Linked DNA regions of Homo sapiens: region 1 is linked to region 2. The links come from fine-mapping of genetic effects on gene expression. Tissue or cell type: whole blood. Region 2 holds a variant in brackets; the other region holds the start of a gene. All regions are shown on one strand. Distances are between the middles of the regions.

Region 1 (5,000 bases), 33 kb after region 2:
GGGTGCTGTGGCATGCCTGTTATCTCAGCACTTTGGGAGGCTGAGGTGGTTGGATTGCTTGAGGCCAGAAGTTCAAGACCAGCCTAGGCAACATGGCAAAACCCTGTCTCTACAAAAAACAAAAAAAACAAGAGGGTGTGGTGGCACATGCCTGTAGACTTAGCTACTCAGAAGGCTGAGGTAGGGGGATCACTTGAGCCTTGGAGGTTCAGGGTGCGTTGAGCCCTGATAGTACCATTGCACTCTAGCCTGGGCGACAGACTGAGACCCTGTCTCAAAAAAGAAACAAACACCAAAAACAAAAACAAAAAACAAAACAAAAAAAAACACTCCTCCCTACCTGATCAGGTGTCTGTATTAGCTGAGTACTGTGCACTTGAATGCAGTCTGGCATATAACAAGTGCTATATAACAGTCACCTTTTACTATTATCATTATTATTATTTATTTTGTTTTCTTTTTTGAGACGGAGTTTCCCTCTTGTTGCCCAGGCTGGAGTGCAATGGCGCGATCTCAACTCACTGCAACCTCTGCCTCCTGGGTTCAAGCAATTCTCCTGCCTCAGCCTCTCGAGTAGCTGGGACAACAGGCGCCCGCCACCACGCCCGGCTAACTTTTTGTATTTTTAGTAGAGATGCGGTTTCACTGTGTTAGCCAGGATGGTCTCAATCTCCTGACCTCGTGATCTGCCCGCCTCGGCCTCCCAAAGTGCTGGGATTACAGGTGTGAGCCACCGCGCCTGGCACTATTGTCATTATTATTATGACTGCTGTTCTCTCATCCCTCCCCACCCCAGATCCTGACCAAGATGAAGCAGCAGGGTCATGAGACAGCCGCCTGTCCGGAGACTGAAGAGATACCGCAGGGAGCCAGTGGCTGCTGGAAGGATGACCTCCAGAAGGAACTGAGTGATATATGGTGATGCCCAGCCTGCAGTCTGACCCCTGACCCTCCTCTGAACCCGTTCCCCCAACGGGATCTGGCAGTGACCACCAGAACCTGGAGCCCACCTGAGTCCAGACTTCCCTCACCCCCTAGGACTCACCCCACCACGGCCCCCAACCTTAGCTGTACTGCTGTCTACACCCTGAGCAGTGTGGAGTCTCCCAGCGCCCCCAGCTCCTTGTCTTCTTGCAGGTCTGCTGTGCACGTGCTGCAGAACTCCATAGACAGCCTCACTTTGTGCTCGGGGGCCTGTCCCAAGGCCTCGAGCCTAAGAGGTGAGGGAGGCTGAGAATTGCTCAGGGGTGGGAGGTCATTGTCTAGCTTCACAGGGAGGCTATGTTCAGAGAGCCTATTTGGGAGTCACATCTGATGGGTGTTATTCTATGGTCACATTAAGTAGTGTTCTGGGGTCACATTAAGGAGTCACTGGAGGTTTCATCCAGGAGTCATTCATGGTCACATTCAGAGTCACTTGGATCTTATATGAGTCCATGGGGACTCCACACAGTGGCTCATGCCTGTAATCCTAATATTTTGGGAGGCTGAGGTGGGAGGATTACTTGAGTCTAGGAGTTTGAGACCAGCCTGGGCAACACAGTGAGACCCCATCTCTCCAAAAAATTTAAAAACTAGCTGGGTGATGGTGCACCTGTGGCTGAGCACACCTGTAGTCTCAGCTACTCAGGAGGCTGAGACAGGAGGATCGCTTGAGCCTGCGAGGTTGAGGCTGCAGTGAGCCATAATCGTGCCACTGCACTCCAGTCTGGGCAACAGAGCGAGACCCCATCTCTAAAAAAAAAAGTGTCAATTGGGTAAAATGCAAGGGTCATTGAAGTCATAATTTGGTGTCACACTGGATCACATTCAAGGGAATTGGGGGTCATGGTTTAAGTATCAATGAGGTATACTATGAAGGGACACAGGGCCTATATTTGGGGGTTACTTGAGGGTCACATTCAGGGAACCTGTCCCTCCTGCAGGCCACAAGGGGCACCAGTGCCTGAGCCCTCCACTCCCCTCCTGGGACTCTGACTCCGACTGTGACCAGGACCTCTCCCAGCCACCTTTCAGCAAGAGCGGCCGCTCCTTCCCACCCGGTGCAGATCCTCCCCAGTCCCCCCCTCCACCCATTTCCCTCCTGACCTGCCCTTGACTCCCACAGTCTAGACCCTCAGAACAGGCCCAGATCCTGATCTGGGCATGCGGTCCCTGACCTGCAGCCCCGGAGTCCCCTGGACCTGGCCAGGCCCTGACCCACCCTCTCTCTCCACAGCTTGAGCAGCCGGGACTGCTCTCCCTGAAGACCCCTCCAGAGAGAAAATAAACTAGCCCAGACCCTCCTCTAGCCCCGACTGTTAGTCTTGCTGCTTCCTGTGCCTAGGAATCCCCCTGCCCTCCTAGTTTACCCCTCATTGTTGGGGGGGAGGGGTGTAGAGACCCCAGGGGTCATTCGGGATGTGTGGGCTTGGAATCAGGGGACATCTGAAGCCAGATTTAATATATGACAAGGCAAGGAGTCATTCTGTCCAGACACGAGCAGCCAGACAGACTTCCACACTGGCCACAGAGCCTTCCTTTCTGGGGGGCCCTGGCGAATGGGGAAACTGAGGCCCAGAGAGGGAGAGGCGCGGCCCAGGGACATACTCTGAAGCCCCTCCCTCCTATTACCCTCGGAGCCCCGCCCACCCCAGGGTCCTCCCTCTCTACTTCCATTCTTGGTTCCTTCCTACAATCGATGCTAACACGCCCCGCCTCCAAGATCACGGAGGCCCCGCCCCACGGGGCTATGCAAATGAGACGCCCGGAGGCCCCGCCCCTCCCTCCACCTCGGAGTCTGCGCGGCGCGGCCAGGCCCGGCCGACCGCGTCTCGGTCTTCGCGTCTGCCAGCCTGGCTGGCAGTCCGTCTGTCCATCCCGCCGCGCCGGGGCAGTCTAGGCGGAGCGGGGGCTCAGGCGGCGGCGGCCTCGACGCGGTGAGAGGAGGGGGTGGGGGCGCCCCTCATCCCCTCCCGTGGGCTTCCCACCCCCGGTGTCGGTCTCCGGTTCCTGAGGGTTGGGTCCCTCTGGGTCCAGCGCGGGGAGGGGCGGGGGAGGGGAGGCGGCGAGCTGGGGGAGGGGACCGGGCTGGGGGAGGGGACCCCGGGCCGAGGAGCCAGCACCGGTGGTGAGGGCGGCTGTGGGTAACTGTGATTGTGTGGTTGTCATTGTGTGTCTGTGTGTGGTTGTGTAACTGTCATCGTGTGGCTGCATGACTGGGATTGTGTGGTTTCGGGAGGTCCGCGGGTGTGTGTGTGTGTGTGTCACTGTCATTGTGCGGCTGTCGTTGTGGGTGTCACTCTGATGGTTTGTGTGTGTGTGTCTGGCTATGCTGTGACTGCCATTGGCCCCCCGTGTGGCTGCTGTCTCTGTGTGTGACTGTCTTGGTGTTCGTGTGGTTGTGTGCATAGGACTGTCATTGTGTGGCTCCTGTTGTGTGTTCATTCTGATGGTGTGTATGTGTGTGTGGCTGTGGTCGTGCGCTGTGCACCTTTCTTGTGTGGCATTGTGAGTCTGTGTCATGGTCCATGGATGTGGCCATGTGGTTGTAGATGGCACCTTGTCTCTCCCCTGTGACTGTTGGTGTGAATAAGAGACTGTTAGTGTGTGTGTGGCTGTCGCTGAGTGCCTTGTAATTGGGGGTGTGACGCTGTGATGAGTTCTGTGACCCCCATTGTGTGCGGTGACTCTTTTCTGTGACTCTTAAGTGTGTTGCAGGCCTGACTGTGTGTCCCTGACTGTAGCGGTGTGGGGGCTTGTGTGGGACTGTGATGTGTGTAGGGTCTCCTGACATGTCTCTCTCTGTTTGGCCTGGGGTGGGGGTGGGGACTTGTTTGATCTGTTTGGTGTCTCTGACAGGCTATGAGCCCACTGTGTGTGAGTATGCAGTGACATGTGTTGTGTGTGTTGGACACCTGTCTGAACAAGGGGGCCCCTCTTGTTTACTGCAAAGTGGCGCCCAGCACAGCGCCTGGAAGTCGGCAGGTGCTCGGTCTTCACTGTGGGATGGGTGAACGCTATGCCATGGTTGTGTGTGTGTGTGTGTGTGTGTGTGTGTGGTGCCAGGATGGAGGCTGCGGCTGGGTTGTGCTTCCTAAGGGTGACAGCATGGGTGACTCTGGGTATCTAGGACCTCTGGCAACCATCACCCCATATCACACTGCAGAGTGAGTGTCGTGGTTGGGGTGCTGGACCCAGAGTGCCTACCCTCGCCTGCCTGGGCCTCAGTTTCCACATCTGCACAATGGGGGTGACCATCCCTGCCCTGCTGGCTGCCAGGAGCGGCTGTGAGTCTTCAGGCGTGGATGCAGCCTGGGGGAAGCCATAGGGCGCTTTCACAGGTGAGATGGGGCTGGGAGAATGGATGCAAGCAGGTGTGACTGTGTTGAGCCCTAAAGCGCTGGGGACTGGGGGTAGCCTTGGGGGAGGGAAGAGGAGAACTGGGAGGCAGACCGGCTGGGAAGAGGGGGAAGGAGGGAGAGGCAGTTGGCAGAGAAGGAGGGCTTGGCTATCAGCCCAACCAGACACCAACACCACAGCCCATGGGGACAGAGAGAGGGGCCCCTGCAGAGGCCATGGAGGAAGCGACTCAGGGGAAGGGTCTGGTAGGGATGGGGGCCCCTTGGGAAAGAGGATGGTGTCCCCTAAAAACTAGTGGGGACCCTTCTAAGTGCCATGGGGGAGGGGTTCCCATGAGGCTGGGGAGTCTCTTCTAAAGGCCCACCTCCTAAAGGGCATTGGGTCAGAGCCTCCCATGTAGGCTGTAAAGGAAGGGACCCCCGTAGACTCTTGGGGAGTGGTGTCAGAGGAGGCAGGTGTCCCCAGTAGGGTCAGGACCAACAGGGCAGGACCTGGATTGCAGAGGCATGGCCAGAAGGTTCAAGGGACAGAGTCAGGGCCTCCCCGGGTCTTCAGGGCCAGGGGTGTGGCCAAAGGACTCAGGGGATGAAGCCAGGGTCCCGGTGACCTGAGCCTTCCCCTAGGCACACCCCCTGGGACTCCCACTCCCTCCCCACCTC
Region 2 (5,341 bases):
ACTCCGGAGGCTGAGGCAGAAGAATCGCTTGAACCGGGAGGCGGAGCTTGCAGTGAGCCGAGATCGCGCCACTGCACTCCAGCCTGGGCGACAGAGCGAGACTCTGTCTCAAAACAAACAAAACAAAACAAAACAAAACAAAAAAACAAAAAAAGGAGACAACTCAGGAACAGCCAAATGGAAGTGATAAAGAGGGCAATGTGTGGGGGATGGTGTGCAGCACTTCCACACCCTTTCTTGGGGAGGGGGGCACCACCCTTCCAGCACCTCCATGTGTTCATCAACTCAGAAGCTCTCCAAACCTGTCATTTAGGTTGTATTTTGTTTTGTTTTGTTTTGTTTTTTGAGACGGAGTCTCGCTCTGTCGCCCAGGCTGGAATGCAGTGACGCGATCTTGGCTCACTGCAAGCTCCACCTCCCGGGTTCACGCCATTCTCCTGCCTCAGCCTCCCGCGTAGCTGGGACTACAGGCGCCCGCCACCACGCCCGGCTAATTTTTTTGTTGTATTTTCAGTGGAGACGGGGTCTTACCGTGTTAGCCAGGATGATCTCGATCTCTTGACCTCGTGACCTGCCCGCCTCCGCCTCCCAAGGTGCTGGGATTACAGGCCTGAGCCACTACGCCCGGCCAGGACTTTTTTTTTTTTTTTTGAGACGGAGTTTCTCTCTTGTCATCCAGGCTGGAGTGCAATGGCACGATCTCGGCACACCCCAACTTCTGCCCCACTTGTTCAAGCGATTCTCCCGCCTCAGCCTCCCGAGTAGCTGGGATTACAGGCATGTGCCACCAGGCCCAGCTATTTGTTATATTTTTAGTAGAGATGGGGTTTTGTCATGTTGGCCAGGCTGATCTCAAACTCCTGACCTCAAGTGATCCTCCTGCCTCAGCCTCCCAAAGTGCTGGAATGACAGGCATGAGCCACCACACCTGGCCAATCCTAGCACTTTGGGAGGCCAAGGCGGGAGCATGGCTGGAAGCTGGGAGTTCAAGACCAGCCTGGGCAACATAGCAAGATCCCATCTCTCAATCACTCAATCAGCTGGATGTGGTGGTGCTTGCTTGTAGTTCCAGAAACTCAGGAGGCTGAAGTGGGAGGATCCTTTGAGTCCAGGAGTTCGAGGCTGCAGTGAGCCATGATTGTGCCACTGCACTCCAGCCAGGGCCATACGGCAAGACCTTGTCTCCAAAAAAAAAAAAAAGAAAAGAAAAGAAAAAGAAAAAAGAAATGCTGGGGAGGGAGATTGCAGTACTAAATCAGGGGAGGGGGCAGTGAGAAAGTGAGATTTGCACAGTAGCCCAAAAGAGGAAGTTCAGTTAGGGGAGCTTTGTTGTATTAGTCTGTTTTCCTACTGCTGGAAAGAACTGCCCAAGACTGGGTAATTTATAAAGGAAAGAGGTTTGCCCGTGTACGGTGGTTCACGCCTGTAATCCCAGCATTTTGGGAGGCCAAGGTGGGCAGATCATGAGGTCAGGCGTTCGAGACCAGCCTGGCCAACGTGGTGAAACCCCGTCTCTACTAAAAACACAAAAATTAGCCAGGCGTAGTGGAGTGTGCCTGTAATCCCAGCTACTCGGGAGGCTGAGGCAGGAGAATTGCTTGAACCTGGGAGGCGGAGGTTGCAGTGAGCCAAGATGGCACCACTGCACTCCAGCTGGGTGGCAGAGTAGGACTGAGTCTCAAAAAAAAAAAAACAAAAAAATACCCAAAAAAACATAAGAGGTTTAATTTACTCACAGTTCAACATGGCTGGGGAGGCCTCAGGAAATTTACAATTATAACAGAAGGCAAAGGGGAAGCCAGATACCTTCTTCACAAGGTGGCAGGAAGGAGAAGAGCCGAGAGAAGGCGGAAGAATCCCTTATAAAACCATCAGATCTCGTGAGAACTCACTTGCTATCAGGAGAACAGCATGGGGGAACCGCCCCCAGGATTCAATGACCTCCACCTGGTCTCTCCCTTGACACGTGAGGATTATGGGGATTACAATTCCAGATGAGATTTGGGTGGGGACACAAAGCCAAACCATATCAACTGTGACTACCTTGGGTAAGGGCCATCCAGGCAGAGGCAGGGGGAACATTCTGGGCAAAGGCCTTGGGGCAGGGGCCTGGTATGTTCAGATAGCAGCAAGTAGGCCAGAGTGGCCGGAGGGGAGCAAGTGTGGGGAGGCCAGTGGAGAGATGAGGGTAGGGAAGGGATGGATCAGATCATGCAGGGCCCCGGGGGCCACAGGAAGGACCTCAGCATTTACTGCAAGTAAGGTGGGAGCCATCGAATGTTCTAAGCAGAGGAGGAATGCGCTGTGACTCAGGTGTTCACAGGTGCCCTCTTGCTGCTGGGGAGAGAACTGAGCTTTTTACTAGAAGTAGTTGAGGGAAATAGTGTCCTCCCTACCTTCCATATAACAGAGCTTTCCAAGGTCAAGGTGGTGGCCATGGGACCCAGTGGGAGGCAGCCCGAGGCCCGGTGAGGTTTCTGCTGTGTCTTGAAGAGCCCTTGACTGATATCTGCTTAGTTGCAAATCAAACCCCCTTTCCCAGAAACGCACTTCACTAATGGAAATAAAAGCACAACTATATTTGGGCACGACGGATTTAAGTTTTTCTTGTTGAGAAGAGTACATCTTTCCAAACTGGACATCAAGGAATTGCTACACAGAAGAACCACATCCAGGATAGAAAGGACCAGCCAGAGCTCGTTCAGTAGTGTATTTCAGAATCATCAGGGAGGAGCCGGTAGCAGAATTATCCCGTTAACACTGAGACCACATTTCACCTGTTACTTATTTTTCTAAATGGAGTAGGAGAGAAAGATGCTAAAATGTGATCTTGGGAGGAGTCCCCCAGTCCCCCGAA[AAAG/A]AAGAAGAAAAAAAAAAAGCAGAACTCCAAACCCCTGTGGTCATGGCAATTTCCCATCAAAACTGCCCATGTAAAATAAACACAAGCTGCTAAAAGTGAATGTTAAGAAGGAAGGCACTGGTTAGTGGGTGGTCCTGACCAATCCCCTGGAGCTGGAGAGGGGTTTTCCCACGGCCTTTGGTTTAATGTGTCTGTAAACTCAACAAACCTCCGTTTCCCTGAGGTAATCTGCAAAAACATCAGTTTTCAGTCCCCAGAGACCATTTCCAATTAAACCTCACCCCCCAAATCATTCAATGTAACATTTGCCTTATTTTTAGAAGAAACAAATGTTCCCATATTATTCCCAGTTTTTGAGAGAATCCTGAGGCAGCTCTCTCGGCTGCTACTTGAAGTTGAATTCTTGAAAAATCTTATGTAAACAGAAAGCTTAGGCCAGGTCAGGAGTAAAATGCAGTCAAAGCTGTTTCTCATCACACAGGTGATTACAGGTTAGCTCTGCCCTATTCAAGACAATCTGATCCATTCCTTTTTTTGACAGCAGTTTAGAGACAATTGGCCAACAAAACCAGCCTGGCCAACAAGGTGAAACCGTCGCTACTAAAAATGCAAAACTTAGATGGGCGTGGTGGCAGGTGCCTGTAGTCCCAGCTACTTAGGAGGCTGAGACAGGAGAATCGCTTGAACCCGGGAGGTGGAGGTTGCAGTGAGCTGAGATCATGCTACTGCACTGCGGCCTGGGCGACGAGCGACTCTCTGTCTTAAAAAAAAAAAAAACAAAAAAACCTCAGCAGGCCATACTGCATCTTGAGAAGTCTTTTTGAAGCTACTTTAGTTTGACTTTAGTGTTAAAGTAGCTAAAAATTTTTGACTCCCGCCCACATATTCAGATACCCTCACTTTGTGCATAGGATTTGTCCATTACACCTCAGTCATCTAATTTGTTGGTATAAAAGATACCCTCGGCTGGGCGTGATGGCTCACGCCTGTAATCCCAGCACTTTGGGAGGCCGAAGCAAGTGGATCACTTGAAGTCAGTTTGAGACAAGCCTCACCAACATGGTGAAACCCCTTCTCTACTAAAAATACAAAATTTAGCCGGGTGTGGTGGCAGGTGCCTGTAATGCCAGCTACTCGGGAGGCTGAGGCAGGAGAATCGCTTGAACCCTGGAGGTGGAGGTTGCAGTAAGCTGAGATTGTGCCACCGCACTCCAGCCTGGGCAATAGAGCGAGACTCTGTATCAAAAAAACAAATGAAAAAAAGATACCCCACTCCAAAGTTCTAAGGGTAGCCTCTGGTATGAAGAAACCAGGGCTCCCTAGAAATAAATCTAAACTTGAACCAGGCTTTCCCCCTCACACATACCCCAGGGAAGAGGCTGAGCTCATGAAAGCTGCAGGAAGTCATTTTGGCTTCAGGGGCTGGGAGAGCAGACACAACCTCTGAAACAGAGTCAGGGACGTGGGAACATAAAACATCCACTTAGCCATCCTAACAGTGCTGGTCCTGTGAAGGGGTGTTGGTTGGTGTTTGGGAGCAAAGAAAAGGTGCTGCGCCCCTAGAGTTTGGAATCTGATGGGCAGAAAGTGCCTCTAAACCGGAGGTCAAGATGTACATCTTCAAACTGCACACGTAACCTCTGAGCAGAAGCCCCTGGAGGTGGGGACCCCAGCTTCAGAGACTCCCCGGCACTGATCACAGTCCATCCCCCCCATTCACATAAGGTCCTGCCACTCTCAGGCTGTCTACAAAGTACAAGCAGTGACAGCAAGTTACTCAATCCTACCTCCTCACCCCTTCCGCCCAACCCCCAGCATCCCTTAGAAGTGACCCCTAGTTTGAGGCTGTGGTGAGCTATGATTGCACCACTGCACTCCAGCCTGGGTGACAGAGCCAGACCATCTCAAAAAGAAAAAAAAAAAAAAAGAAGTGACTCCTCCATTAGCAAAAATTGTCACATCCCTGGGCCCTGCCGATGACAAGGATTGGGAAATGGACATTGGGTCTTGAAGGGCCCCCCTCAAGTCGGAGCCCAGGTGCTTACATCAGAAAGTCGCCGACAACTGCCTGCGGTGGCTGGGAACGTTGCTTCATTTCCTTTTCTAGCAGGATGCATGATTGGGCAAGAACTTGCTTAAAACACAACCAGCTAAACAGCTAAACAGGGCCTGGGAGGGAGGCCCCAGCCCCAGGCTCCTGGCTCTGAGGTTAATTAACTTCTGGCCGAAAGCCCAGAGCCGGAGTGCTAGGGGTTGGGCGAATCTCTGCCCAGTCTAATGTGGTCCATAGTTCCAGAATTCACTTCAGGATCAGAGATGTGGTGAACACAGCAAAAACAGTGGCAGGGTCGTGGGTGATGTGGATCTTGGGGGAAGCTTGGAAGGCACTTCTGGGGTCCCTGAAGCCGGGGGGTTGAGGGGATCTGACTCCCTGTCCCTTCTACAATGGGAAAAGGCTGCTTCAATGCTGCTTTTCGCAAG

The links. PIP is the estimated chance that this variant, and not a neighbour inherited with it, causes the effect.
Region 1: it holds the start of PLPPR2, and the variant in region 2 is fine-mapped to the expression of PLPPR2 in whole blood (INTERVAL, PIP above 0.99).

What each region holds. Positions count from the first base shown.
Region 1 is chr19:11,352,655-11,357,654 of GRCh38, forward strand. PLPPR2 (phospholipid phosphatase related 2) reads left to right here and starts at 2,778. Exons shown (of 10, transcript NM_001393892.1): 1 at 2,778-2,918; 2 at 4,148-4,322. It overlaps CCDC159 (coiled-coil domain containing 159), which reads left to right. Exons shown (of 11, transcript NM_001080503.3): 8 at 797-918; 9 at 1,138-1,220; 10 at 1,926-2,042; 11 at 2,219-2,290. The coding sequence ends at 2,223. RefSeq lists a silencer at 2,598-3,047 and an enhancer at 3,690-4,631.
Region 2 is chr19:11,319,488-11,324,828 of GRCh38, forward strand. RAB3D (RAB3D, member RAS oncogene family) reads right to left here. Exons shown (of 5, transcript NM_004283.4): 5 at 2,581-5,341. TSPAN16-AS1 (TSPAN16 antisense RNA 1) reads right to left here and starts at 1,838. Exons shown (of 3, transcript NR_187778.1): 1 at 1,737-1,838. It also overlaps a transcript of TSPAN16 not described here. RefSeq lists an enhancer at 4,761-4,970. The variant AAAG/A (reference allele first, on the strand shown) is at 2,858.